Regions from separate parts of the Homo sapiens genome. Here regions 1, 2, 3, 4 and 5 are each reported to be linked to region 6. The links are microRNA targets in miRTarBase. Many come from high-throughput screens and were not tested one by one. Region 6 holds a microRNA gene; each other region holds the end of a gene's coding sequence. Distances are between the middles of the regions.
The links. Region 6 holds the annotated microRNA hsa-miR-1468-3p (AGCAAAAUAAGCAAAUGGAAAA, at 2,253-2,274, opposite strand). A microRNA usually pairs through its seed, bases 2 to 8, with sites in the 3' UTR of a target mRNA and lowers its output. Matches are read on the target gene's strand: a 7mer-m8 pairs with bases 2 to 8, a 7mer-A1 pairs with bases 2 to 7 and ends in A, and an 8mer does both.

Region 1 (5,064 bases), not on the chromosome of region 6:
GACTCAAACTCTTGATCTTAGGTGATCCCCCTGCCTCAGCCTCCCAAAGTGCTGGGATTACAGGCGTTGTGTCACCACGCCCGGCCTATATTTATGTTATTATATATCTTTATTGTTTATATTTTTGCTATGAGATGCCTAAAATCCTTTGTTGAATGTAAATAAGTAAAAATAAGTGTTTTCCTTTTTTATTCAACAGGAAAGATTGTTTAAAACTAATGAAATACCTTTTAGAACAGCTGAAAGAAAGGTTTAAAGACAAAAAACATCTGGATAAATTCTCTTCTTATCATGTGAAAACTGCCTTCTTTCACGTATGTACCCAGAACCCTCAAGACAGTCAGTGGGACCGCAAAGACCTGGGCCTCTGCTTTGATAACTGCGTGACATACTTTCTTCAGTGCCTCAGGACAGAAAAACTTGAGAATTATTTTATTCCTGAATTCAATCTATTCTCTAGCAACTTAATTGACAAAAGAAGTAAGGAATTTCTGACAAAGCAAATTGAATATGAAAGAAACAATGAGTTTCCAGTTTTTGATGAATTTTGAGATTGTATTTTTAGAAAGATCTAAGAACTAGAGTCACCCTAAATCCTGGAGAATACAAGAAAAATTTGAAAAGGGGCCAGACGCTGTGGCTCACACCTGTAATCCCAGCTCTTTGGAGGCCGAGGCAGGCGGATCACTTGAGGTCAGGAGTTTGAGACCAGCCTGACCAACATGGTGAAACTCCATCTCTACTAAAAATATAAAAATTAGCCGGGCATGGTGATGCATGCCTGTAATCCCAGCTACTCGGGAGGCTTAGACATGAGAATCACTTGAACCCAGGAGGTGGAGGTTGCAGTGAGTCAAGATGGCACCACTGCACTCCATCCTGGGTGACAGAGCAAGACTTCCTCTCAAAAAATAAATAAATAAATAAGAAAAATAAATTAGGAAATTATTAAAATAATTTTTTAGAAAAGCAACAAAATAACAAAAATTAGTGACTGTAATAATTGGAATGTTTGAAATTTGTCACAGCAATAATTGACTAAAATGAATGTAAATAATTATTCAGTTTTCAGTTTGTTGTAATAAACTCTAATCAGTATAAAGGATTGACTATCCTAGGAAAAAGATTAGTCAAGGAATAAGAAGCAAAAGTAGTATTTGAAATCTAAAAACATTACCATGTTTGCTTTATCATGCAGGCAAATAAATAAATAAATGACATTTTTAGGTTGGAATAAAAAAAGATAAAGTACATATTGCCTTAATTAAATTCATCAAGTTCTTACTGAAAAACAGCTCTCCGCCGTGCCTGGCCAGGAAATACATAATTTTTTTTTTTTTTTTTTAGATGGAGTCTCGCTCTGTCGCCCAGGCTGGAGTCCAGTGGCATGATCTTGGCTCACTGCAAGCTCTGCTTCCTGGGTTCATGCCATTCTCCTGCCTCAGCCTTCCGAGTAGCTGGGACTACAGGTGCCCGCCACCACATCCGGCTAATTTTTTGTATTTTTAGTAAAGATGGGGTTTCACCATGTTAGCCAGGATGGTCTCGATCTCCTTACCTTGTGATCCGCCCGCCTTGGCCTCCCAAAGTGCTGGGATTACAGGTGTGAGCCACCACGCCTGGCTGAAATACATAATCTTAAAAGAAAACATAAGATACTTTATTTTAATATACGTGACTAAATGTAAAACCTAACTTATTTTCTGTTATCTATTTATTTTTACTTTCAGTAACACTTTTTTTATTTTAGGTAGCATTCAGCCTAGAGGCAACTGCTGTTTGTTAAATATTTCCTGTTCATATATTTTGCACATTTTCTTATGGGTTAGTTTTCTTCTCATTGTTTTGGGAAGTTCTTAATATATTTGGGGTATTTATCTTTCATTCGTTGTCTGTGTAACAAATAACTTCTGCCATATGGGTTGTCTGCACATTTTTTGGTGTCTTTTAGTAAACAAGGTTTTTTTGTTTTGTATTGTTTTGTTTATTGTAAAGATTTTTAAATTTTAATGGAGTTGATTTCTTTTCTCATTCAAGCTTTTGAGAATAAATTGGAGTTGAATTTTTTATGGTTTTTGCTTTATACATCTTGTTTAACAGCCTACTATGTTTGAACATACTAAGAGAAACATTAGACATTTGAAGAGTTTTGGGGACAATTAATGATAAATAAACCACTATGCAAATAAAATAATCTAAGCAATTTTTTTTTTTTTTGGGACAGTCTCACTCTGTCGCCCAGGCTGGAGTGCAGTGGCACGATCTTGGCTCACTGCACCCTCCTCCTCCCGGTTCAAGCAATTCTCCTGCCTCAGCCTCCCAAGTAGCTGGGACTACAGTTGCACGCCACCATGCCTGGCTAATTATTTTTGTATTTTTAGTAGAGACAGAGTTTCACCATGTTGGTCAAGCTGGTCTCAAACTCCTGACCTCAGGTGATACACCCATCTCAGCCTCCCAAAGTGCTAAGATTACAGATGTGAGCACTGTGCCCAGCCAATCTAAGCAATTTTTAACTCCATAAGAAAAATGAATGCATGAAAGAAAAGTCTGATATAAGAATATTGCTCAGCTGTTTAAGTATTGACAAAGTCATAGTAATGTAACCATTGACTATTAATCTTATTGAAGTTATGGACTGTTGTCGACTTTAAAAAAATTAAAAACCAGGGGCGGTGGCTCACCCCTGTAATTCCAGCACTTTGGGAGGCCAAGGCGGGCAGATCATGAGGTCAGGAGTTCAAGACCAGCCTGGCCAACATGGTGAAACCTCATCTCTACTAAAAATACAAAAATTAGATGAGTATGGTGGTACGTGCCTGTAATCCCAGCTACTTGGGAGGCTGAGGCAGGAGAATCGCTTGAACCCAGGAGGCAGAGGTTGCAGTGAGCCAAGACAGTGCCGCTGCACTCCAGCCTGGTGACAGAGCGAGACTCCATCTCAAAAAAAAAAAAAAAATTAAAAAAAAACTTTTTTAATGTGAAAAGAAAGAAAGAAATTATGATTACCCACTCTGTGGTTAGGATAGGACAATAGGCTTAGTTCCTGTATGGTGACAGTGGTAGGGAGATTACATTAGTTTCCTGTGTAACAATTAACCACAACCTTAGAGGCTTAAAACAACACATATTTATTATCTCACATTTTCAGTGGGCCAAAATTCTGGGTGTGGCTCTGCTCAGAGTCTCTCAAGGCTATAATTAAGACGTCAGCCAGCGCTGTAGCCTCATCTGAGGCTTGACTGGAGAAGGAACCATTTTTGTTGGCAGAATTTAGTTCCTTTACATTTGTAGGACTGAGGGCTTCAGTTTCTTGCTGTCAGCCAGAGGTTGCCCTCAGTTCCTAGAAGCTGTCTTCAGTTCCTTACCATGTGAGCCTCCCAACATAGGCAGCCCACAACAGTAGCTCGATTCTTCAAAGCCAGCAAGGGAGGTACTCCAGCAAGAGGAGTGCTACAAACTTGTTTAACACAATTACATACACATAATTATGTACAGTCCGTTGCCTGTACTGTATTCTATTGATTGGAAGCAAGTCAAAGGTCCCTCTCATACCCAAGAGGAGAGGAATCACTCAAGGGTGTTCTTGTTGTCTCAGATGCCAGCGATACAGTTAGGGGGAAAACAGTTCCCATAAGACCACCCTCATTTCTGTCAACAATTGCAATTTCAAGGGATTCCTAAAACCACCCTGAGGTTTGATGAAAGACTCACAGAACTCACTAAAACCACTATGCTCATGGTTGCAGTTTATTATATAGTAAGCATGCAAGTTTAAATCAGCCAAAGGAAGAAGTGCGTAAGGCAGAGTTTAAGAGAGTAGCAAACACAGCACTTTCTGTTGTCTTTTGGTGGAGTCATGGACATGTTATTCTCTTGGCATCAATGTGTGCCAATACACGCAGAATATTGCCAGCCAGGGAAGCTCACCTGAGCCATGTCCAGAGTTCTTACTGCAGCTCATGGTTGGCTGGACATATGTCTAACCTCAGTCTCCAGCTCCTCTGGAAGGCAAACAGTATAAGCTGATACCATGACCCAAAGACCCCACCATAAATCACATTGTTATACTTTCTGGCACATTCCAAGAATTCAGCCATTACCTTTCAGAAGCCAAGGGCAAAGGTGAGACTTTTCTTTGGGTTAGGTTAAATTCCTTACTACATAGATATGAACCTCAGGAGGTGGGGGGCCACAGGACAACCCTGAGGGTCCGACTGTCACAGGTATGCAAAAACTGAATTAATCTTCCTTATAGTGGGAAGTCAGTAAATGTCAAATTTTTAAAACCAAGAAATTGCAGTATAAGCAAGTTATTAATGGCTAAAAGATGAAAAGGTTACATCTTGGGAGTGGAAAATGAAGGGTGGAAGGGTTCGGGACTACTTTTTTTTTTAAATAAAATGATTTTATTTAGTTAGTTTGTAAATGTGAATATAGTTGGCAAAAACCAAACCAAAACAGCATAAAACCAAAAAATGACAGTTATATGATTGATCATGCCCAAGTACAACAGCATTTATTAGTAGAATATAAAAAATAAATTTTATGGCTGGGTGCCATGGCTCATGCCTGTAATCCCAGCACTTTGGGAGGACGAGGCGGGCGGATCACCTGAGGTCAGGAGTTCAAGACCAGCCTGATCAACATGGAGAAACCCCGTCTCTACTAAAAATACAAAATTGGCCGGGTGTGGTGGCGCATGCCTGTAATCCCAGCTACTCAGGAAGGCTGAGGCAGAAGAATTGCTTGAACCTGGGAGGCAGAGGTTGCAGTGAGCCGAGATTGTGCCATTGCAGTCCAGCCTGGGCAACAAGAGCGAAATTCCATCTCTAAATAAATTAATTAAATTAAAAATAATAAAAAATTTTATTATTGTTGTTATTTATTTATTTATTTTTTTGAGACGGAGTCTTGCTCTGTCACCCAGGCTGGAGTGCAGTGGCGCGATCTTGGCTCACTGCAACCTCCGCCTCCCGAGTTCAAGCGATTCTCCTGCCTTAGCCTCCCAAGTAGCTGGGATTACAGGCACCCACCACCACGCCCACCTAATTTTTTGTATTT
Region 2 (5,075 bases), not on the chromosome of region 6:
GAAGAGATGTGCATATACAAGAACAGAAAAAGCGAGGTTGATGGGAGAGGCTGGCAAGGGGCATTTTACAGAGTGATATGGGAAACCACTGGAGGCTTTATATATTAGAGCAATGTGATTAACACTTTAAATAGATCATTTTACCTACTCTTCAAAGAAAGGATTGTGGCAAAGGCATGACAGACAGAAATCAGACTACACCTACCAGAAAAGTGATAGCTGATACAGGGAAATTTGATGAGCTATAAAAGCAGGCAGGGTAGGAATTTTCTCCATACTTAGACTGGGTTAGAATTATATTGAACATAGATGGCAAAAGCAGAAGGGAGAAGAGGACACCTGGAATCAAAGAGCCCAAGCAGTTTTGCATGCCTTAATTATGAAAATCTTGTACTGTTCAAGATTTTCTATAAGGTACATACATTATTGAAGATATTGTACTAGTATTAGTTAAGAAGCATTCTCAAACAGCTATCTTTTGAACTGTGTTTGAGAGTGGTAGAATTCAAACTTCTGAATATTTGAGTGCGTTCCAATATGAAGTCTGGATTGCAATGGTAAAAATAAATCCTATTTGCCCAACACATATACTACACAAAATGTTGTAAGGGCCAGTAGACAAGAGGTAAAATAACTTGTCAAGTCACTGTGGAGGAATGATTTAAAATGCAGAGCTGACATGAAGTCCATGTTCCTTCCATGTAATGGAATGTTCAAATGATTACAAAGCCAGGCTTTGAACAAATGTTAAGTGTTCAAATGGTTAGAACATCAGGCTGTGGCTTCCAGCCTTAGAGTGAAAGGGATGAGGGGCTCAAGGCCCACACAATGAACGCTGCTCCGTTCCTATTTCCACATAGGGAAGTGATGCTCCCCTTCTCAAACCTCATGCACATTCTGTCTCTCCAAACCCTTCAGTATGCCCATGCATAAGACCCTCAATATGTCCATGCTTTTAACTTCATTTTAAAAAATCTGGTATGTAAATTTTGAAACTTATCTTCATAATCTATTACAGTTCATGATGAGTTAAGAAATGGCTCTTAGAACAAATGATTGTTATGATATTATTTTTGGAAACTCTCATGAAAACTAAATGTTTTAAGTAAGCTTTTGATGCAGACTGTGGTGTTAATAATGGGGTTATAAGTGGCAATACTTAAAAGCTATTAAAGCAAAACCTAGAACTTCAGTTCTAAGAATTAGTCATTTTTATGTTCGCTTTGTTTTAAAATGGGAACATGGTTAAGAATTTCACTGGTCTTTAAACTAAAGATACCAGCTGCAAAGGACAAATGTAATGTTCTATAACATGAAAGGACTTGTACTAAAAATCAGGATTTTGCCGGGCGCGGTGGCTCATGCCTGTAATCCCAGCCCTTTGGGAGGCAAGGCAGGTGGATCACAAGGTAAGGAGATCGAGGCCATCCTGGCTAACATAGGTGAAACCCCGTCTCTACTAAAAACACAAAAAAATTAGCCAGGGCGTGGTGGCAGGCGCCTGTATTCCCAGCTACTCAGGAGGCTGAGGCAGGAGAATGGCATGAACCTGGGAGTGGGAGCTTGCAGTAACCCGAGATCGTGCCACTGCACTCCAGCCTGGGAGACAGAGCGAGACTTCATCTCAAAAAAAAAAAAAAAAAAAAAAAAAAACCAAAACGGGATTTAATTTGTGGGTCATTTAAAGAAAAAAAGTATCAGGATCATTAGGACAAATAACATTTTCATTGCTGTAATGGGCCAACCAAAACATGAGACAGAGAACAGAGGGAAAAACAGATACAAAAGCCAGTGAGGTACAAGCACCAATGGATAAGAACTGAGAACTCAGTAAAATACCTGGTGGATGAGGCAGCAACCTAGTTTTCAGTTCTAAAATAACAGTCTGGGTGTCCAGGCTTCTAATTCCAGACAAGTAAAAAAATTAAACCTAAATCTGATCAAGCCTCAAGATCTACCACTTTACCACACAGTGGACAGAAAAATGTGTTCAGTGACAGCACAGAGTTACAATGAACAAACCCAGGAGACAAAAAATTCTTCAGGACATGACCCAATTTCTTCAAGTAAGAAATATGGAGAGGCCTGTGGTTAAAGCCGATGCAACATATTTGGACTTTGAACAAATCAGTTAAAACAAATTAGAGATGAGGGCTCTCTGGATACTGACAGGGGTAGTATGGCATTACTTTTAACTCTTACAATAAAGCTATATGGTTATGTTTTAAAAATCCTCAACCTTGTGGACTGAGACACTTGGGAACAAACTTTACTTGTATGGGATTTTCTTCCCAATAGCAAGGGTGGGAGGTGGAGTGGTGAACTGGTGGGGTACAGATTAAGTTTTGCTATTTTGGAGTTAATAAACAGGTATTATTGGTATTGCACAACTTTGTTTCTCAAAATAAGTTTGAAAATGAGTATTACTTCTAGAGAAAGTGTTTAAATAGCCATAGAGTGGCATGAGGTTAACATCCTGACAACTTAGAAAACGGATTCAGTAACAGACAATAAGATAAAAATCAAGACCCTGAAAAAGATCTTTGCCTAGCCCACAAAGCCACCTCTAAAAACACCTTTAACATACAAACCTCATTCCACATGCAGGTGTATCCTCCACAACTCCCCATCTTCACAAACAACCCTCACCCACAGCACTCCTATTTCCAAGCAAAGATTAGGGACATAAGTAATTTCAACACTATTAAGAATTTAATACTTGGGAGGCTGAGGTGGGAGGATCACTTGAGGCCAGGAGTTCGTGACCGACCTGGGCAACGTAGCAAGACCTCGTCTCTAAAAAAAAAAAAAAAAAAGTTAAAAAAAAAAATCAACATTAATTTGCTAACAGGGCCTTTGCTGACATTTGCCTTTGCCTTTCTTCAATGTCTATCTTGTAGGGGAAGCAAACTGTTCAGCATTTAGAAGCAGTTAGCTTTTCAGAAATATCTATTTATAATTCAGCAATGTGTATTACAAATCAGGCAGAAAGAAGTCTTAATGAACTATCTACCCTCTTTCAAGCATGAAGTGGCTAACTTTTGCTGGGTCTTGTTAGTTTCTGGTTAGTCTTTATAGTTAGAACTATAACTGATTTAAGTAGCACACCCAACACTTTTATATCCTAATGAATCTTAATCTCCTTCAAAGTAGTTGCCTTGTGAAGCTATTTTTTCCAGCCTCCACCACCTGCCATTGGTGAACACATTTTAAGTCTTTGGAATCTCCTCTTCAGAAGCTGTAACTTTATTTTTAAAAATATCCTTAGCAGTAATACATCTTCCTCTTTGTGGGTGTATTTTATTTCTTGAAACAGCAACAAATCACTTGGAGCCAAGTCTAGTGGACAATTAAAGTAGGTAAAATAAATGTAATGGAGACCTTAGTGTAATTATAAAGCGATGCAACATTTTGACTCTGTAAACTGATTTCCAAAATGTTGAAAAAAATAGTAAATGTGAGTAACTTGAAAACATTCATCTGGATAGAAATTCCGGCTTTTTCATCAAAACTTCACTTCTTTGTGATCAGCTTGTATTCTATCAACCACTCAAGTTCAGGGGCCTCACATTTTCTCCTAGCCTACGTAAAAATCGTAACATTAAATGCCTAAATTATACAGAACTGTTAAAGCTCAATAGTTACTAAGTTTTGGTTCATTCAATAGGGTACCTCATTTCAGAAATAGTACTTAAATCTGACTCAAAATTACCTTATGACACCATTCAAAAGCAAATCAGGTTTTTTGGTTTAGTGCTAAAATATAACATTTAATGTCACATTGTTGGGCGACTCCCATTTACTTTTTCCATATATACAGTGAAGACTTACAATAGCTCACAATGCAGTTAAGAATTGCATTTTAATAATCTCAAACTACCATCTAATGGAGGAAAGAATAAGTTTGTCAGAAAACCAGTACAGCCATTTTGCTATTAAAATTTTCCTTTTTAATAATTTATTTAAATAAGGTATTTGAAGCAGTTTAGAAAAAACAAGATTTGTATTTTATTTCCTTGTAAAAATCTTTACACATGCAGACAAACCAGTGTTAAGAAAGTATTCACCATCATTTAAACAAATAACCACTTAAATAGAACAGTGTCTGCAATTTTATCTGTATAAAAATAAGATACATTTTTACAGAATTCACGCTCCAGTTCTTATAGCAATAAACAATACACAACTATAATAAAGTACAATTGAACCTGACCATGGTTTTTAATTAGATACTGCTAGGGCATTTTAATGTGCAAAAAAATTAACATAGTTCTTTTCAAAAGAAACTGTCCTCAGTGTTCTAGAGACCTAGAGGGTTTCAAGAAATCAAATCCTAATCAGTTTGCGTTTAATGTTTTTGATTGAGTCCATACATCACACTGTAGATAGGCAAAACCAAGAACTGATGCAGGCTCAAAGGAAGAGAAAGTCAGCGCCTGTGCCTGCCATGTCCTGAGCGACTGCCACCATGGTGCTTGCTTTTATGGGACCTCTCAAAGGAGCGAGATCGTTCACGCCTGTCCCTATGATGTCCCCTTTCATGCCTGTGTTTCTTGGCTGCATCTGAGTGATCCCGAGACTTGCTCTGAGATCGAGAACGAGATTTTTTCCTTTTATGACCATGTCTGTTTGAACTTTTTAAATCATCTCTGGTATGCTTGGCCTTAAGGTGAGGAGAACCATGATTATGATGTCTTCGAGGGCTTTCACTGTGACTGCGGGACCTGCTTCTTGATCTCGAGCTGTATGTTCCAGATCGACTCCGCCTATTATTATAGCTTAGATAATAAAAATTTGAAGTTTAGGTTCAGTTTCTATGGGGAACAGATTATTCCGGTGGTTGCTCATAACAGGTTCAAAACAAAACTACCAGCTACATAAATGACAAACCAGAACTTTTCAAAATCTCCCCACCCCTCACTGCTGTATGCCCAAGCCTATATATAACATATTAAATCTTAAGCAAATGTTCTTATGTCTTTATTCCAAGGGGAGTAATTAGCAATTTTTATAGTGTCCTAGAGCTATGCTTTTTATTAAGTATCTCCCACATGTTCAAAAGACATTGAAGAGCC
Region 3 (5,075 bases), not on the chromosome of region 6:
GGAGAGAAACCCTACAAATGTGAAGAACATGGCAAAGTTTTTAACCAGTCCTCAAACCTTACTACACAAAAGATAATTCATACTGGAGAGAACCTCTACAAATTTGAAGAACATGGAAAAGCTTTTAACCTATTCTCAAACATTACTAACCATAAGATAATTTATACTGGAGAGAAACCCCACAAATGTGAAGAATGTGGAAAAGCTTATAACCGATTCTCAAACCTAACTATACATAAGAGAATTCATACGGGAGAGAAACCTTACCAATGTGCAGAATGTGGCAAAGCCTTTAACTGCTCCTCAACCCTTAATAGACATAAGATAATTCATACTGGAGAGAAACCTTACAAATGTAAAGAATGTGGCAAAGCTTTTAACCTATCCTCAACCCTTACTGCACATAAGAAAATTCATACTGGAGAGAAACCCTATAAATGTGAAGAATGTGGCAAAGCTTTTAACCAATCCTCAAACCTTACTACACATAAGAAAATTCATACTTCAGAGAAACCCTACAAATGTGAAGAATGTGGCAAATCCTTTAACCAGTTCTCATCTCTTAATATACATAAGATAATTCATACTGGAGAGAAACCCTACAAATGTGGAGATTATGGCAGAGCTTTCAACCTATCCTCAAATCTTACTACACATAAGAAAATTCATACTGGAGAGAAACCCTACAAATGTGAGTATGGCAAAACTTAATTGATCCTACAAGCTTACTACACATAGGAAAATTCATACTGGAGAGAAACTACAAATGTGAAGAATGTGTTAAAGCCTTTAACAAGTCTTCAACTTTTTCTGCACACACGAGGTATTTTATACTGGTGAGAAACCTTACAATGTAAAGAATGTGGCACAGCTTTTAACTAATCTTCAAACCTTACTGAAAGTTGAGAAAATTCGTACTGGAGAGAATCCTACAAATGTGAAAAATGTGGCAAATCCTTTAACTGATCCTCAACTTTTACTAAACATAAGGTAATTCATACTGGAGAAAAGCCATACAAATGAGAAGAATGTGGCAATGCCTTTAATCAGTCCTCACACCTTTCTACACATAAGATAATTTATACTGGAGAGGAACTCTATAGTTGTGAAGAATGTGGCAAAGCTTTTAACCAATCCTCATACCTTACTATACAGAAATTCATACTGGAGAGAAAGCCTACAATTGTGAAGAATGTGGCAAAGCTTTTAACCTTCCTTAACCCTTAACTGTAGATAAGAAAATTCATACTGGAAAGAAACCCTACAAATGTGAAGTCTGTGGCAAAGCTTTTAACTGATTCTCAACTCTTACTACATGTAAGAGTATTTATACTGGAAAGAAACCCTACAAATGTAAAAAACGTGGCAATGCCTTTAACTGGTCCTCACACCTTGCTACATATAAGACAGTTTATACTTTGAGAGAAACCCTGCAAATGTGAATAATGTGGCAATACTTTAAACCAATCCTCAAACCTCACTAAACATAAGATAATACTGAAAACTTTACAAACCTGAATGATGTGACAATAATTTTGACAACACCTCGAACTTTCTAACATAAATCATACTGGTGAAAAATCCTAGAAATGTGAAAAATATCACAAAGCCTTTAAATGGTTGTCACACTTGATTGTAGGTAAGAATCCATACTGAAGAAAACTCCTGGAAGTGTAAAAAATGTGGCAACACTTTTAATAAATGCTCACCCCTTATTGCACAGGAAAGCATTTATACTTCAGAAAGATTGTACAAATACAAGGAATGTGGAAAAGCCATTATTATCTGCTCAGATTTTACTCAACATTAGAGAGTTAGTACGTAATAAAAGCATTATAAATGCAATTTTTGTCAAGAGATCTTTCAGAAAATATAAGCCTTTAAAGTGAAGAAGAGGAGCCAGTTGTGCTGGCTCACATCTGTAATGCCAGCACTTTGGGAGGCCAAGGTGGGTGGATCACCTGAGGGCAGGAGTCTGAGACCAGCCTGGCCAACATAGCAAAACCCCATCTCTATTAAAAATTTTACAAAAATTAGCTGCGTGTGGTGGCAGGCCCCTGTAATCCCAGCTAATTGGGAGGCTGAAGCAGGAGAATTGCTCAAACCTGGGAGGCGAAGATTGCAGTGAGCTGAAATCACACCACTACACTCCAGCCAAAGCAACAAGAGCAAAAACTTCGTCTCAAAAACAAAACAAAAAAAGAGTATTCATTGTGAGGACAAACAATACAAATACGAAGAGGGTTGTAGTACCTTTACTTGTATCACAGATACTTTTGTACCCATTTTGCACTAGAGGAAAACCATGAAGCAGTTGCTCAAATGTTGTTCAACACCAGAAAATTTATATTGGAGAAAAGCACTGTAAATGTAATGCATTTGTGAAAACATTTTTTAAAAAACTACAGCTTAGAAAATACCAGAGGCCTCATACTAAAATATATTTTTGCAAGTGAAGTAAATATAAAAATAATTTAATCCAAAATTAAGTCTATATAAATATCAGAGAATTCACAGTAGAAATATCTAAGGTACTGACACTTCAGACATTGCTGAGTATAGAATCAGAATGCTGAGTATAGAAAATAATTTAAAACTAAAGTTGGTAGGTAAATAATGTGTATATAACTTTAAAAGAAGTAGAATTTTTTTGTAGATGTATAATTACATTCAAATTATATTTTTTCTTGAAAAATTAGTTTTTGAAAAGCAAATGATGTAATTCAACTCAAATTCATGCTCTTCATTCCTATTGTATTCACATGTGAAAGCATGTGATTAATTTTTCATGCATCAAAGATATGAGAAATCATTTCTGTTAGGTCGGTATTATTTATGACACTTTCTATGAAAGAATAAGGACATTAAAATGTAAGATGCATGATGAAAACCTGAGTGAAGAGGCTGTTTGTGTTTAACTTATAATATTGAGTGATCCATGAAGTAGGTTTTCAGAGCAATATTCTTCTGCATTATAGTAAGAGAAAACCATTTTTAATCTTAGTTAAAATTAAAGTGAATTAGTAGTATATCATTTTACTATTTGTACTTTTATGTAATAAAATGCAATGTGTTTAAAAATTTTTGGATTATGCGTGAACTTAGTTTTTTAATTAAACTTTTTTTAACATGTTAAAACTATTGTGCATTCAATGAAGTGTTTTCATGCCACTGACTTTACCTATCCCACATTACTCAAGGGTTTAGGTAAAAGAGGGTAACAGTATACTACTTGATAACATAATGGGCTAACATCTCTAATAATTATTTTTGCTAGTGACTTTAAACTGCTAATAAAGAATATTGTTCCCATAGGTTAGATTTTTATTCTTTTTAAAATTTAAACTTATTTCTCTTAATTTTTGTGGATACATAGTATGTGTATATCTTTATGCCATGTATGGCATATTTTGATACAGGCATATAATTTTATGTATTAATCACATCAGGGCAAAAGATGTATCCATCAACTCCAGCATTTCTCCTTTGTATTACAAACCAATTCTGCACTTTTAGATACTTTAGAATGTACAGTCGTTACTACAGGGTCATTTTATGGTTATAATAAAAATTATATACAAGTATAAATAAACCATGAGAAAATTCTGAGTTCTGAATAAACATTTAAAAAATGTTATATATTTTTCTTTGAACATGTGACCTCTCTGCCTGCAAACATACAGCATTTTAGTTTTGATTTACATACACTTAACTATACACATATATTACTCTAAAAATGAACCTTAGGTATGAGAAAATTATGGAGCAAGTAAGTGTGTTTGTGTATTAGCTTGTACCTATTTTCAGAAGACGAGCAATATTGGAACAAAACTAATCTTTTTTTTTTTCGAGACGGAGTCTTGCTCTGTCGCCCAGGCTTGGAGTGCAGTGGTGCGATCTCGGCTCACTGCAAGCTCCGCTTCCCGGGTTCACGCCATTCTCCTGCCTCAGCCTCCCGAGTTGCTGGGACTACAGGCGCCCAGCACCACGCCCGGCTAATTTTTTTGTATTTTTAGTAGAGACAGGGTTTCACCGCATTAGCCAGGATGGTCTTAATCTCCTGACCTCGTGATCCGCCCGCCTCGGCCACCCAAAGTGCTGGGATTACAGGCGTGAGCCACCGCGCCCGGCCAAAACTAATAATTTTTAAAAGGTGACTAATTTACTAGACAACTGAAAACCTCAAAAATGCTGAAAGCAAATCTATACCCTCTGCTTTGCATTGAATTCATTTCTGTAAAATCTGGCTTACGATTTAGAATCTCCCCATGCAAAGTTTTTGTTTATACTTGCGTGATACTCATGCTACACCTTTAATTTTCTTGTTACTTATGCGTTTTTCTTTTATAATTTATCAGGTATTCATCATGTGAGCTGGTCATGGATTATAAGAATGATTTTTATAAAGTTTAGGAGTACACACAAAATAACTTCTAGATGTGTTTCCAAAATTTGTGTATTATATTTTATTTAGAACATTCTATTTCTTCTTTCCATTGTAGAATCCTATATAAGCCTACTTTTCTTTAGTTAGTATTCTTTTGTCTTGTTATAGGTGACATAAGTAAATTTATTTATTGAGCTAGTTCAGGTAAGAACTAGAAAGACTTCATAAGTCATGAAAATGTTTTTATATATAGATGTAGCAAACAAACATGACATTGCTTATGGTGTAACAGATGCTCCATAATGAGCCATATGTATTTCTGCTGGTGTTAGTTTGTAACTAACTTCAAGTCAGAGATGGAAAATATTAATAGTGAAGAACTAACATTGATTTTTTATGTGGAGAGAACATTTTTTTTCAGGCTGCAAAGCTGAATCTTGCTGTTTTTTTTTTAATTTCCTAATTATCTTCAGTTTTGTTTATCTTATGTGTCTTCAGTGTATTCAACACAGTCCTTCTTTTTCTGTGTTATTGCCACAGTTTTCTCACTGTTGTCTTCATGCCATGTCAATTCACATGGTACTTTGTAGGCTTTGATGAGAAAGTTGGTATTTTTTAATGCACTGAAAAATTGGTTATAACTAGAGAGTTTGCTTATCAATATAACTTTCAGATTAGTTAAGAAAAA
Region 4 (5,075 bases), 72 Mb from region 6:
CATAAATAAAACTTAGGAAAATATTATTAAACATGACAATGGACCAATTTTCTTAGCTTACAAAAAGCTCATACAAATCAATAAAACACATACCACCTAATAGAAAACAGAACATGACTACACATTTCACAGGAAATATCAGTAATCAATAAACATGAAAATGTGTTCCATCTCCTTCATTAAAATGTACCAGACCTTCATTAAAATGCATTAGAACTTCATTAAAACGCAAGATACCATTTATTCACTTTCACATGATCAGACTTCAAAAGTTTAGTACCCAGTATTGGCATGGGTTTGGTAAATAATCATTCTCATACATTATATGTGGAAGCATACTGGGCAAAGATTTCTAGAGGACAATTTGGCAGTAACTACTGAACTGAAAATAAAAAATACCCTCTGATCCAGCAATTGTATTGCTAGGTACACTGTAGAATAAAAACTCATTATATGTACAAGTATATTCACCACAATGTGATTTAATATTGGAAACAACCTAAAGAGCCTATCAGTGTTTGAACATTTGTAACACATTCAAACATTAGAATACCACACAGCCGCTAAAAATAATGAGGTATTTTTATATATACTGATACAGAAAGATCTCATAAAACACAGGTAGCAAAAAAAGCAAGGTACAGAAGAGTATATATAGTCTGATTCTATTAATGTGAAATTTTTAAAGTACAAATTTGCTGATAAAAAATAAAAAATTGTTTTCCTGTGAGTACAAGACACTTGAAACTGGTTACTTTTGGAGAGGAGTATTAGGGTAGGAGGGAAGGGACCAAGTTTTTATACCTTTCTGTACCATCTGATCTTTTCGCCATGTGCATACATCATCTTTCTTGCCCCCACTCCCCTTTCTAAGAACACTTAATTAACAGGTTATTTTGAGATATTCCTAGGTAGGTTTGAATACCGGTGGTGTTATTTTTCAAAATACTGTAGATAAGTGCCAAGTTTTGCAATTTAGAACTTCCCCTTGGATTTTCATTAAACTTTATATTTGCTTCCTTGATGCTTTAATCATAACGATTTCCTATTAAGTATAAAGTGACACTTTCAATGGGAGTTTGGCTTTATAACAAATTTGTGATGGAATCATTAGACACTGCTGCTCAAGAACCCATTTTTACACCCCAAAGGGCATTTGATGATTTATAAACATCATCAAGATTATACATTCTATTTTGACTATTAAAAACATAAAACTGCAGTAAGATTTTACATGTACAATTAAATTATCCATTGAATTCAGTAAAACAGCATCACAGTAGAAAAATACAGTCATAAAATTAGCTCTTACATTTTTCTGGGGACAGAAAAGCAGAAGAAATGAGATTAAAAGTCCAAAAAAAAAAAGCCCAAAAAACACTACCAAAAACAGGGTGAGACAATCATTTATTTATTGGACAGGGCAAGGTCATTTAAAGATTGGAAACATATCCCAAAAACACGTGTTTAGTTTGGTGTTACAGGCATTGATGCTCACAACAAACAACATTATTCAATACATCATGTAAACAGGCCACATACAACCAGGAAGATGCTGTCAAGCCACTGAGAAGCCACAATGCTTAGAAAACAATCATTAGGGAGTTACAGAGAATAATCACCTCCAACTCATTGATATGCATATTCTGCGGCTGCACAGTATTTGGCTGGTTCCCTGGTTATTAAGTGAGTCGTTCCGTATTTTAAAGAGCCTTGATTGGTACACACTTCTGAATATCACTGAAATCAGTCAAGCAAAGGCTTAACTAGCTCACATCATATTTTTGAACTACCCTAGGCAATAATTGACTGTCTCACAGTACTGTAGATAAAATTCTGTACTTAGCATATTTAGCAGTGTTACAACGCATCCAAATCACCTTTAAGTCCTATGGTACATACTTGAAAAAGACAGCAGAAACTCACTGGAGTAAATGAAAAAAGAAATTTGGGGAGCTCACCTGGCCTGAGGTATACAAGCTGCTAGCAAAGATAGACACACGTGAAAACCACTTTGTCAATTATTTGCCAAGTCATTTGGCCTGATTTTTGGCCTGATTTTTAGCCTGATTTTTAGCAGGACTCTTCCCGACTGAGGAGGCAAAGATTTCAACATCCATTCTAGAGACTAGCCACAGTATTATAAGTAGTAATATATCATAAATGCTTGGTTATGAGGAAAAACTACTCAGCATAAGATTCACGGAGAAAAACCTGTTAGGTATCTGGCCCTCTTGCCTGAAATCTATTGATTTTACCAACCACTCCCTTTCACAGCAATAAGAGTTCTCAAGATGAGAAGAATTTTCTCACTCCATATAGAAAATCATATTTGGGAAGCCAGTCCCAAAAGACCGAATATTGTAGAATTCCATTTATATGAAATGACCAGAATAAGCAAATCTACAGAGAGAGAAATAGATTAGTGGTTGCCAGGGGCTCGGGGATGGGGTGGGCACTGGGAGAAAATGAGAGGTGACTGCTCAAGGGTACAGGGTTTCTTTTTGGGGTAACGAAATGTTCTAAAATTGACTGTGGTCACGGTTACACAACTTTGTGAATACACTAAAAACCACTAAATTGTACCCTTAAAATAAGTGAATTGTAAGGTATGTGAATTATATCTCAATAATGTTACAAACATATTAAGAAACGAAGACATACCCCAAAGAGAAGGAAACAAGAGGCTCTTCCAAACCAAATCGTACCAGAAGAAAACAGTAGCCAAGTCTGATGGAAGGAGCTTGTTTCTTGCATGCTATTTTATCATCATCACTTTAACCCGATTTCACATTTTTAATTCATTTCTAAATTATTTTAGGTTATCGGCAGATTTCTAACTTTGTTCTCATTAGAGAGCAGAGTCAGTGTTCCGCAGACAGACTGGGCTGGCGTAACAAACCAAAACTAAACAACAATAAAAACCCAATGAAAAATAATCTCATGCTTTGGGGCTATGTGTTACCAGTCAGAAGAGAAGAGCTGATGTCCATTTCTAAAGGAAAATAAAATGCCTACAAGTACAATGGCATCTTATGACTCATGCCTAAAGCACATTTCCTTTTCAAACCTGCATACAGTTATTCCCTTTTTACACCTATACAATTCAACAAAAGCAATGTTTTTATACCTGTACAATCCAAAAAAAGCAACGTTCTCTACAAAGAAATGTTGAGCTTCCTACAGCTCTCTAGCTCAAAGAGCTAGCCAATTTCCTTAAAAGTAAAATTACTGTTTCTAAAAATATCAACTCTGTATCCTCATCCTCACTTTCAGCAACATACAGTGAAGATGGAAAACTTGAAGACTGCTATAAACCAGAAACTACAAAACAATTTCTTAAATGACCTGATTTTCCTAAAAACCTTAAAAACATTAGTTCCAAATACTGAGAATATATTTGGCCCAATTCCTTTGAACTCTGTCTTTAGATTAATGACGAGTTTCCTTTATTTCACTTATTCACTAGTTTAGTATGAAATAAACAGAGTTTGAATCAGTTAAACTGGCTAATGACAATTTTCCTCAATGATTTTTCTTCTGCATAGGCATGATAATGAAATCACAAAAGGTCTTCAACTAGTCTTCAACTATTCTTACACTATATAATCAATTAGGGAAATTTTTACAGACAAATGAAGAGAACACAAGTAGCTTTACAGTAAGTTGAGCCTGTTACATATATTTGTTCTGACAAAGAATTTCTGACACAAAAATTGCTCACTGCACACAGAATCTCAGAGAAATGATGAAACAAGACAGCTGATGGTAGAAGGTATATGGGAGCAGGGTAGGGTGAAAAGTCACAAATAAATTAAAAACTGGCAAGTACTTCTGAAGCAGAGCCACTTTTTAGGGGACACAAGAAAAACTGTTAAATCACCATTTTGGTCTCATCAGGGAAGTCCATTTGTTAAGAATTGAAGACCATTTTACTATAATTCATGCTGCAAAACACAGCAGTCACACAGTATTTCCAAAAGGATTCCAAAAATTGTAGTGCAAAAGAAAAGAAATCTAAAAAAATAAATAATCACAAAAACCACCAACATTTTTCAAGGAAATGTGTTCAAAACAGTGGCTTTTACAAAAGATGTGGATTTGTTTTAAATGAAAAAAAAAATAATTCCTATATGAAATACCAAAGACTCATTTCACATATAACTTACACTGCATTAATGATTGGATTAACAGTATATAAACAAGGGCCATGGTTTTTTTTACTAAAGTAGGTCTGAAAGATCAATATAAATACTAATGGGGGCAGGGAGGAGTGTTTTATACCCCAAACTCCAATATTCCAGCTCTGTGTCCTGTCCTATTATTATAATTTGTAAAAATCTTAACGACGCAGTGATTCGAGTTTTCGTAACTTCAATGATGTGTTAGAGGACAATGCATCTTGGTTTGAAGAATTTGCTGTATCCGAAGGCCGGAAAAGTACTCGACCACGATGATTAAATACATAAAAGGATGGGTGATTCCTTAACGTATCAAATGTCCTTGAAAGAAGAAAAAAGCATCAATTTTAGATAAACCTTTATAAAACCCTACTTGAAAATAAGTAGGCTTCTAACGAATTATCAATTTACTATGGGTTATATTTTTTAACAAGTATTAATACATGAAATCAGACTGTAAATAATAATTATACTGTATCTCTTTTCCTATATAAAGAAAATAAGAAACCTGGAAAAGCAGCATATAGCTCTCAAATTTCTTCTTTTTAAAAAAAATAGAGATAGGGTCTCATTCTGTTGCCCAGGCTGGAGTGCAGTAGCACAATCATAGCTCACTGCAGCCTCAAACTCCTGGACTCAAGCGACCCTCTCATCTCAGCCCCCCAAGTGCTGGCACTACAGATGCGCACCACCACACATGGCTTTCTTTTATTATTATTTTTTGTAGAGACAGGGTCTCCCAATGTTGCCCAGGTGGTCTCAGACTCCTAGGATCAAGCAATTCTCCTACCTCAGCCTCCCAAAGAGCTGAGATTACAGGTATGAGCCATGATGCCCGGCTTCTAATATTTTTTTTTATCCAGCCATTCCTTCCAGAATGCCTATGAATAACAA
Region 5 (5,075 bases), not on the chromosome of region 6:
CACCCCTTTCCAAACAATCTGGTAACAATCCAGAGGTCACCACACTTTTCCAACAATCCAGTAACAATCCAGACGTTACCACCCCTTTCAAAACAATCCAGTAACAATCCAGACGTTACCACCTCTTTCGCAGAAAGTCCTGTAACTCACCCCTTAATTTAATGTAAGTAAATGTGCATATAAATACAGTTGTCAACAGCCCTCAAGTGCAGCTCTGGGCCCCCTGTCTAGGCATTATCCTTGCCCCATGAGAACCAGCTCCAGTTCAATAAAAGGAATGCTGAGGGCCAGGTGCAGTTGCTCACGCCTGTAATCCCAGCACAGGCCAAAGTGGGCGGATCACCTGAGGTCAGGAATTCAAGATCAGCCTGGCCAACATGGTGAAACCCCATCTCTACTAAAAATACCAAAATTAGCCAGGCATGGTGGCAGACGCCTGTAATCCCAGCTACTCGGGAGGCTGAGGCAGGAGAATCTCTTGAACCCAGGAGGAGGAAGTTGCAATCAGCTGAGATTGCAGCACTGCACTCCAGCCCAGGCGACAGAGCAAGACTGTTGGATTGCTGTGGGCCAGGTGCAGTAGTGGACACCCACAATGTCCACCAGCAAGAGGGAGGGTGAGGAGGGAGGACTGTTTGAGCCTGGGAGACAGAGGTTGCAGTGAACTGTGATTGTGCCACTGCACTCCAGCCTGTGTAACAAAGTGAGACTCCATCTCCGATTAAAAAAAAGAAAAAAAAAAAGATTGCTGTCTACTACCACCTGCATTCTTCCCTGGGTGAAGACAAGAACCCTCATGGGCTAAGCCCTAATTTGGGGGCTTGCTGGCCACGGATCATCTGGTGGTCATGAAAGGACAAAGATAGCAAGGAGGCCGGGCGCAGTGGCTGACGCCTGTAATCCCAGCACTTTGGGAGGCTGAGGCGGGAGGATCGCGAGGTCAGGAGATGGAGACCATCCTGGCTAACACAGCGAAACCCTGTCTCTACTGAAAATACAAAAAATTAGCTGGGTGTGGTAGCAGGTGCCTGTAGTCCCAGCTACTCGGGAGTGCCATTGCACTCCAGCCTGGATGATAAGAGTGAGACTGTCTCAGAAATAAAGTAAAATGGCTGACAAAAATAAATTGGGGTTAGAGGAGAATCAACCAAGAGAAGGGGAGAAGGATGTGGTTCTGTCCAGGGTGGCCAAGCAATGGGGTATCCAAATCCACTGCTTGGCTGCCGTGAGGGAACAGGCCCTTGGACTTGGGACCTGGCCGGAGCACAGATCTCACAGGAGGTGGCGGTGCTGTGGCCGTCGCCCACTGCTCGGCTCCACCACAGGCCAGAAAAGAGGATGGTTCTGAAAAGAGCCTCTGGTTCGTGTGGCAGCGTTGATCGCCCACCGCGGCACGTCTTGCTGTCTCATGTTGCCTCCACTGCCAGTCGCCTCCATTCTCCCATCTCCCTGCCTCTTGCTCACTCCCTTGTTTTTTTTTTTTTTTTTTTTTGAGACGGAGTCTCGCTCCGTTGCCCAGGCTGGAGTGCAGTGGCGCAATCTCGTCTCACTGCAAGCTCTGCCTTCTGGGTTCAAGCGATTCTCCTGCCTCAGCCTCCTGAGTTGCTGAGACTACAGGCATGTGCCACCACACCCGGCTAATTTTTGTATTTTAAGTAGAGACGGGGTTTCACCGCATTGGCCAGGATGGTCTCGATCTCCTGACCTCATGATCTACCCACCTTGGCCTCCCACAGTGTTGGGATTACAGGCGTCAGTGTGCCACTGCACCCAGCCCTTTTTTTTTTTTTTTTGGCATCTTTAGTAGAGATGGGGTTTCACTATTTTGCCCAGACTGGTCTCAAACTCCTGAGCTCAAGCAATCCACCCACCTCAGCCTCCCACAGTGCTGGGATTACAGGTGTGAGCCACCGTGCCCAGCCCATTTTATTTTCTGTCCTGAAATGTATGCTTCATTCATGGTTTTTGCTCTTACTCCCCAGTAACTGCATTAGGGCAACTGTTTAAGGCAGGACACTTGGCCGTGAGAGGTCCTGTTGTGTTGACCCTGAGATGCCAGAGTCACGTTCTGTGGCCCCAGCTTGGCCTTTGGGGTACACTGTTGGCTGCCTTCCACCTGCTCTGGGGTTTCTGGCATTTGTTGTGTGCACCCTCATTGGCCAACACTTGGGAACCCCAGGGTTTTGGCATTTGGTGCTATTGGTCACCCTCTGGATGGCCCACGGTTTTGGCACTGACATTTCTTCTAAGATTGTAGGTTGGAGGCCCACCCTAGCGGACTCTTGGTCTTGCCTTTTCTTGCTTACTGCCCTAAAACCTAAAATTATAGCTTTTGGTAACAGCTTTTTCTTTTTTTGAGATGGAGTCTTGCTCTGTCGCCAGACTGGAGTGCAATGGCGCCAACTCAACTCATTGCAATCTCTGCCTCCCGGGTTCAAGTGATTCTCCTGCCTCAGCCTCCTGAGTAGCTGGGATTACAGGGACGCAGCACCACACCCAGCTAATTTTTGTATTTTTAGTAGAGACAGTGTTTCACCATGTTGGCCAGGATGGTTTCAATCTCCTGACTTCGTGATCCGCCTGCCTCAGCCTCCCACAGTGCTGGGATTACAGGCGTAAGCCACAGCACCCGGTCTCCCAACAGCACTGGGATTACAGGCATGAGCCACCGCGCCCGGCCTCCCACAGCGCTGGGATTACAGGCGTGAGCCACCTCGCCCGGCCTCCCACAGCGCTGGGATTACAGGCGTGAGCCACCGCGCCCGGCCTCCCACGGCGCTGGGATTACAGGCCTGAGCCACCGCGCCCGGCCTCCCACGGCGCTGGGATTACAGGCCTGAGCCACCGCGCCCGGCCTCCCACCACGCGGCCAAAACTCATTTTCTACTGCAACACCATTTGGGCGCAATGCAAATTAGGAGAACATAAAATCTGGCCTTAAATGGTTCTTTATGTCATAATAATATTTTACAATTATTTAGTAAAAAAAGAAAGCAAATGGAGAGCGGTCTCTTGGGTACAGGTGTGTATGGCCCTTTACTGGTTCTCTTACTTCCAGGCACAGGAAGCTAGGGGGCCCCTCATAGCTGCTCTCCCTGGAAGGACACCCTCCCTGGAGTCTCCTCAGTTCCCCAATTCTGAGGGGGGGTCCCACCAGCTATCTAATGCAGGATTCCATCAAAAAAGTCATCAGGCGTAACTCCCCGTTATCCCACTAGCCCCGGCCTATATGTCCCACTGCCCTAGTAAGTCCAAACGGTACCACCAGGAGTGGGGCCCCCTAGTCCCCAAAACCAAAACTGTGTCCACGGTAAGAGGCAGCTGATGACAGTGGGGGGCACTCAGAGTGCAGGTGCCACCCCCGTGGGGTGACCCTCCAAGTGTCCTGCTCCCAGCTGCCTCTCTCGCCCACAGATGTCATGGGTTACAAACCAGTCCCCCTCAGGAACGAGAGCACCTTGGAATCATTCTGTGTTTCCAAAACTTCCCTCCTATGGCCCTGCAGGAAGGAGCCTGTCATCCTGATGGGCAGAGGACTCAGGCCCCTCACAAGCCTTCGGCAGAAGGGCAGGCACACAGGATTGGATGCAAAATCCAAAACTTCAGTACAGCAGGGAGCAAGGAGCCCGGAAGTGGGCGCACTGGCTGTGCACACGCCTGGACACTTTCACAAGCACACAGAACGACCACCTACCACGTCCATAACGCTCCGGATGTCCTGAGTGGAGAGAGTTGTGTTTATTCACCATGTCATACGCGCATATAGGGAACCTCTATTTAGGAGCTGGTGGCCTGCACTCAGCACCGCACAGATAAAAATATACGACTTTCAACACAGATCCAAATACCCTCACATTTTAAAAGTCAGGATTCCCTACACAAGTTTTAAGCTGACGGGATTCAAGTTCTGAGTTTTCATACATAGCTTTAACTTGTATTAAACACATGTTTATTTACAACGTGGAGAGAGAATAAGGGGCAGTTAAGGCCACTTTCTCCTGTGAAACACTGCAAAATATGTACATAAGTACAACCTAATATAGGCAAAGGTTCTAAAAATCATCTTTCTTGGCTTCACGTAATTGAGTATCAGTCGGGGAGTGGAGAGCGGCTGCCGATAGCACCAGGCCATGCCAGGCCACGCCAACAAGGGCGTGTGCATTCACTTTTTCATTGAGCTGCCCTCAGAGCTGCTGCCGAGCTGAGCCCTGCACGGGCCCAGGTGTGCGCCGCACCCCAGACCGGTCTGAAGCACGTGTCACCGGTCCCTCAGTTCCATTTCCAAATCCACCAAGGTCCAGTCGACAGACATTTCCAAAAAGAATCCTGTTCTAGGACCACTTGCGCTGAGAGCACACCCGGGGGTCAAAGGGCAGCCACCGGGGGTCAAAGGGCAGCCATCAGGTACTCCCCAGGGAAGGGCTTGCGGCCACCAGTCACTGCAACCCCGCCTCACCTCCGATGCCTGCTGTGCCCAGGGTGGTCCCGCTCATAGCGACGGCCTGTGCGTTCATACGACCTCGAGCGCTCTCGTCGCTGATCTCTGTAGTAATGACTTTTCTTCTTGTATTTTCCCGGATTATCCGCCCGCTCCCGTGACCTGCTTCGAGAACGGGAAGAACTCCGGCTCCGAGACTTGTGTGGCTTCTGGGGGTACTTGCAGTCCTTGGACTTCCGGGAGCCCCGAATCTCAGAGCCTTTGTAGGGAGCGCTGCGGGGGGCCTGTCTCGGTGGGGAGTCACTCCTGCTCCGGGAGCGGCTCTGCGACTTGGACCCACCAGATGTGGAGCCGCTGTCACTTTTCCTGGGAGGAAGAACAGCACCACCACACGTGTGACCATCTGGCCCGGCCAGGCCCCACACACCCACAGGAGCTCAGACAAGACACACAAGCTCCAGGTTTAGAGAAACAAGAAACCACCTCAGGGTGAGAATGATTACCCCGAGGGACAGCCCCACCCCGGTATCGGCCTCCTGGGTGCGCCCTGAGGCACACACCTCCTCTTAGGAGACGCTGATCGGGATGGGGACCTCGAGTAGCTCTGCTCACGGCTCCGGCTCCGACTCCGACTCTC
Region 6 (5,075 bases):
CTCTGGATCCCAGCTTTCCTGGCTGGACAGCAAGGACTCTAAGGTCTTTACCTGCTCTAATCTTTTCTGGTTCTACAAACATTTGATGCAGCTTTAATGGGACCTCAGGGAAGTAGGGAGGTCTGGGAAGAAGGGTCTTTTGAAGCCCCAGCACATAGGCATATGAACCGGATGCCCTTAAGAACCACTGAAACAGAGATCTAACAAAACTCTGAGGAAGGGAAGAGGACAGCCCCTCTGAATATAGTCCTAGCCCACACCAGATTCCCTCTTCCCCTCCACAATGAAAGCAAAAATGGAGTTAAATATCAGTTTTTGCCCAACCACTTCAGGCTACTTTCCTTCATCTGCGGGTTATGGGTGGCAGCGTAGAAGTGTGGGCTATTGCCATCAGTGCCTGCTGACCCAACCTAACTGCCTTCTAAGGCCCTTTTGCTTATGCCTCCCAGCTGAGGACAAAGTCATGGGGGCCTCCCACTCCCCAGAGGCCCTAACCAGGCTTAAGCTGCTCCTGGCTAAGTCAGAGAGGCATCAAAATGCAGCCACCACTTCCTCTCTGCAAAAGGAAGTCATTCCAAGGTCTCCAGGTGGAGAAGGGAACACCATGGCATAAAATGAACTGTTGGAGGATTATACTAAACACACACACAAGCACACACTCCTTGGGAGGGAGAGAAGAGCTCTGTTAACTGACTGTGGCCCAAGCCCATTTCCAGAATGTGGGTTTCTGCAGCTGTCTCTCCTTGACAAAGCCCCAAGTGTGGACAGGGTGACCCCAGCCCGGACAAGGAAGGGCTTTAGGGCTCCCTCAGGCAGCTTCCTGAGAGAGAGAGAGTGGCTCTCTGGCCCTCATGCTCTGGGGCTGACCAGGGAAAGGAGTTGCAGAAAATCTAGTTGGGGGCAGGGGGGAGTCATGCAGCTCTCCCATAAGGCCCCCTCCACAATTCCAGGCTTTGTGACCGTCCCCTCCCCCCACAACCCCGTGCCAGCTTGTCAGCCTCCTGCGAGCTTCACTGCTTCCAGAGAAGCCCTCTGCCATCCCCCTTCCCTCTCTGGCCTCCCAAGTGACCCCTGGGATGTTCCTGGGCACATAATCTGGCCCCCACCCCTATTCCACCTTAATCTCAGAGGGAGATAGAAAAGTGGAGGGGGATGGTAGGGGGGTTTCCTGGGCAGGCAGGCTAGCAGGGACTCCTAAAATGGCCACAGCAAGCTCACTGGTGTCTCAAGGACGGCGGCTAGGGCGGTGGGCAGAGGCCAGGGTGCTCACTGCCTTGTGGCTCGTTGGAGGAACTGGAGGTGGGGCTGGGGGACTGAGAGGCTCAAGCAAGGGAAGCCAAGGTTACATGCACTCACCATTCCCGATCCGCCCCTTATCCACTGCATGGTGCTTGCGAAGTCCGGCTTCTCTGAGGCCCCGTAGCTGGCGCGAGTTGTCGCGGGCTGACTAGAAGGGCTGGGCTGAAGCAAGCGAGAGCCCCAGCGCCCCCTCCGCCGCCCCTCCTCCACAGCCCTACAACCCAATCCCCTCCGCCCCGGACCTCGCCTTCAGTCAGTTTGTTCCATGCCAACCGGCAGGCTCTGTCTCTCCGCCCTGCTGCTCCTAGAGGTCTTGGCAGGGAGAGGTGCGAGTGTGGGGGGGTCCTAATGGGCTGCTTTTGTCCCCCACCAAGGCTTGAGAACTGTGGGGGTGGGGTGCAGGGAGAGGATGGGGGCGAATAGCCTCCGCCCGCCCAGGAGAAGGCAGCTGCTACCTCTGCCTGCCTCCCGCTGCGCTGGAGTTAGATGCTGTTTATTGTGGGGCTTCCCAATTGTGTCGAGTCAGCGGAAAGTCCTTTCCAAAGTTACCAGAGGTGTTGTGCCAATCTCCAGAATAATAAGATCCTGCCCCAGTGGAGCCAAGCCAGCACTCTCATGCCTCCCTCCCCCACCCTCCCTCTGCATACTCCCCTAGGGTCTTCTCTCTTTGTGTACTATCTGAGAGCTTTCATCTGCATTACTTTCACTTCTCAGAACAACCCTGTAGAGGCAGCCATTAGTATCTCCAAGTTATAGATAAATAAATGGAGGTTTGGAAGAGGGAAGGGGCATAAGGTCACATTAAAGAAAAAAAAAAGATAAATCCTCGACTTTACCCTCTGCGGCTTTCCAAGCCTCTTTCGGCTATCTCTCCCTTTCTATCTCACACACACCACTCCAGGCTTCTCCTTCATGCCCTTAGGAACATGAAAGGTAGCTTGTTGATGGACGAATTTTCCATTTGCTTATTTTGCTGAGAATGAGTTGAATGCACATCAGCGAAACAGGCAAACGGAGAAACCACCCACCTCTTTATGATTCCCCCAACTCTGGGGAACACAACACAGGCTGGTACCTTTGCTTAGGCTAAAAATTGACTTTGTCAGTCACACTAACATCTGTTATTATCCCTTATAATCCTCACAGTAACTCTATGAGATGGACACAACAAGGATTCTTAATTGCCCACCATTACAGACTTGAACACTGAAGCCCAGAGATTGAAAGACTTCTGCTTAAAGTAGCACAGCCAAACAAGACAAGAATCCAAGGCTCCTGACTAGAAGAGCAGGTCAGGCAAAGACAGAATTGCAAAAACAGAGGTTGCAACCAAAGTAAAAGGAGTTACAGTATGATATTAGAAAGAAGTTCCTGGAGATAATTGACATGAAGACATCACTGGCCTGTTACACGTACTTTATTTGTCCTCTTCTTTTTAGCACAACTTCTGCACTTCATCCAACCTGTTGTTTTGTCCATGCAGAGCTGGGCAAAGATAGAAGCAGTACCTTAATGAGCACCCCATCATGGGAGGTGTACAAGCAGAAGCTGAATGACCCTTTGGCAAGGGATTCCTGAATCAAATGGGAGGTTGCCCTGGATGACCTTTCAACTTCCCTCCCAAGTCTGGTAACCCAGGCATCAGTGATTCCACAATGTTCTCTCACTTTCCCATCTCTGGGCCTTCTTTCATGCTCAGTATCTTGGATGCACCTCCCCTGCCAACCAGCCCATTCAAACTGTCATGACTGTTCAAGATCTGGCACCAGGCACACCACCTTTAGAAAGCTTTCCAGGAATACCTCCAGGCCCTGATTTTGTCATCTTTCATTTGATTCCTATAGCACTACGATTTCACTGTCTCGATTAAAAATGATCTTTTTATTTCCTGGATGTTACGGGCTGAATTGTTTTCCCCCAAAATTTATATGTTGAAGTCCTTCCAGTACCTCAGAATCTGATGACTCGGAGAAGACAGTCATCTAAACAGCAAGCCAAGGAGAGAGGCCTCAGAAGACCCAACCCCACTGATACCTTGTTCTCAGACTTCTGGCCTCCAGGATTATAAGAAACTCAATTTCTGTTGTTTAAGCCACAGAGTCTGTGGTATTTTGTTATGGCACAGCCCTAGCGAACTAACACAATGGTCATATGAACATTTTACTGTCCCCTTTCACTTAAATGGCATTATGTGTTTTTGAAGCAGTGGCAATGAATTACTAATTTCTGCATCTTCTACAACAGTGACTGGCACATAGTAAATACCCAATAAAAACTTGGAATTTTTTGATGGATGCATTCATTCAACATTATCATTTAGCCCCTGTGTGCCAGGCATTGTGACAGATGCTCAGGATACAAGACAAAGTTCCTCATGGACCTTACAATCTACTTACAGAAGAGAGATAGACAATAAATAAGTAAACAAACAAAAATATTTAGAGATTGTAATATGTGCTCTGAAGGATATAAACCAATTTATGTGATGTGAGTAGCCCTGGAATTGTGGAAAGTATCTGTGCCGGTCATGGTCCAATCAGGAAAATAAAAACCACCCTAGGTCTTTTAAACTGCGAGCATTTAATGCATGACACTTACAGAGCTAACAAGCCAGACAGAGGATGAGGATGCAGCAACCTAGCATTTAACAAACACAGAAAGCTGCTACCACTCGTAGGGATGGACGGATAACAGATGAAGCCATGCAGAAGCTAAAATCATGGGTTGGACAGCCTATTGGAAGCAGGTGCCATGAATGGAAGAGTTGTTCAAGAGGAGCTGGAGCCATGGAGGAATACAGCTACCACCAGAAAACACCTCTCTGATACAGGTGGTGGGAGAAATACCCTGGGTTCTCCCTTCCTCCTAGCCACCAATCTCCTGTACATGTCTCCCATTGGACAAAAGAAGTGAGAAAGCAAGGAAATCTAACAAATGTAATTTTCAGGAGAAGAGTGGAGAATGGATCTGGATGCAAACAGGCCAGTGTTAATATAAAGCCTAGGGACTCCTGCAAAAAACAGGTGCCTAGAGACTCCTGCAAAAAACGTGTTGATCCCAGAGGTGTAAATAGATGCTGTTGAATCCAGTCATTATGTCTTGAGCACCTATTTGCCTAGAACCATATGAGTAGTTAGAGGAGACATAATGTAGTTGGTAGGGCATAATCTCTGAAGTCAGAACAACTTGGATTGTATTCAGTTATTGGCTTTGCCACTTACTTGGGCAGATTATTCAATGTTCTATGCCCTGACAGTTTCTTTATCTGTGAATAGGGCTGACAAGATAGTTACAAAGATTTGATAAATTTGTCCAAGGAAAGTACTTAGCACAGGGCCTGGAAGCCAGTAAGAATTCAGGACAGGACAATAGAAATCTGGAAAAGGGGTTTCCATAATCTCTGTGTTCACTCTCTTGAAGTCCTGTGATCTCCCAGAAGCCTCTTTGGTACCTAGCCAGGCACCAGCTCTCCACTCTAGTAGAGGGCCATGAGCAAAATGAAGAGAAAGACAGTCATGTCCCAGCTTATCTGTGACTCAGGTTCTCCAGTCATACAATGAACACACTAATTGTGTACCTAAGAGTGTTAAAGAATCACTGATCCATAGATATCAGAGTTGGCCTTAATAATTGTAAAGATTATTTCCTCCAACAGTCTCATTTTACTGATGAGAAGATATAGCCCCAGGGAATGGAAGGAGCTCCCAAAGTCACAAAGTAAGTTAGTGGCTGAGCTGGGATAAAAACTCAAACCCTTGATTCTCCAGTGAGTGGAG

Region 1: the mRNA of CGAS is a reported target of hsa-miR-1468-3p. Seed matches in the 3' UTR shown: 8mer at 1,804-1,811.
Region 2: miRTarBase lists CCNL1 as a target of hsa-miR-1468-3p. Seed matches in the 3' UTR shown: 7mer-A1 at 4,252-4,258.
Region 3: miRTarBase lists ZNF107 as a target of hsa-miR-1468-3p. Seed matches in the 3' UTR shown: 8mer at 2,285-2,292 and 7mer-A1 at 2,445-2,451.
Region 4: the mRNA of MMGT1 is a reported target of hsa-miR-1468-3p. Seed matches in the 3' UTR shown: 7mer-A1 at 4,001-4,007 and 7mer-A1 at 3,949-3,955.
Region 5: the mRNA of CCNL2 is a reported target of hsa-miR-1468-3p. Seed matches in the 3' UTR shown: 8mer at 4,010-4,017 and 8mer at 3,587-3,594.

The regions. Positions count from the first base shown.
Region 1 is chr6:73,420,714-73,425,777 of GRCh38, reverse strand. CGAS (cyclic GMP-AMP synthase) reads left to right here. Exons shown (of 5, transcript NM_138441.3): 5 at 200-2,067. The coding sequence ends at 551. Among named protein-coding and RNA genes, the nearest start is that of DDX43, 28 kb to the right of the region's middle. RefSeq lists a silencer at 3,898-4,192.
Region 2 is chr3:157,143,812-157,148,886 of GRCh38, forward strand. It overlaps CCNL1 (cyclin L1), which reads right to left. Exons shown (of 11, transcript NM_020307.4): 11 at 3,742-4,778. The coding sequence ends at 4,430. Among named protein-coding and RNA genes, the nearest start is that of CCNL1, 14 kb to the right of the region's middle. RefSeq lists a silencer at 4,806-4,955.
Region 3 is chr7:64,707,946-64,713,020 of GRCh38, forward strand. It overlaps ZNF107 (zinc finger protein 107), which reads left to right. Exons shown (of 4, transcript NM_001282359.2): 4 at 1-3,632. The coding sequence ends at 711. Among named protein-coding and RNA genes, the nearest start is that of MIR6839, 31 kb to the left of the region's middle.
Region 4 is chrX:135,960,682-135,965,756 of GRCh38, forward strand. MMGT1 (membrane magnesium transporter 1) reads right to left here. Exons shown (of 4, transcript NM_173470.3): 4 at 1-4,502. The coding sequence ends at 4,343. Among named protein-coding and RNA genes, the nearest start is that of MMGT1, 11 kb to the right of the region's middle.
Region 5 is chr1:1,382,779-1,387,853 of GRCh38, forward strand. CCNL2 (cyclin L2) reads right to left here. Exons shown (of 11, transcript NM_030937.6): 10 at 4,999-5,075; 11 at 2,933-4,804. The coding sequence ends at 4,453. Among named protein-coding and RNA genes, the nearest start is that of AURKAIP1, 10 kb to the left of the region's middle. RefSeq lists an enhancer at 1-327.
Region 6 is chrX:63,783,760-63,788,834 of GRCh38, forward strand. MIR1468 (microRNA 1468) reads right to left here and starts at 2,328; the gene lies at 2,243-2,328. It overlaps ARHGEF9 (Cdc42 guanine nucleotide exchange factor 9), which reads right to left and starts at 1,455. Exons shown (of 10, transcript NM_001353921.2): 1 at 1,357-1,455. The coding sequence starts at 1,386.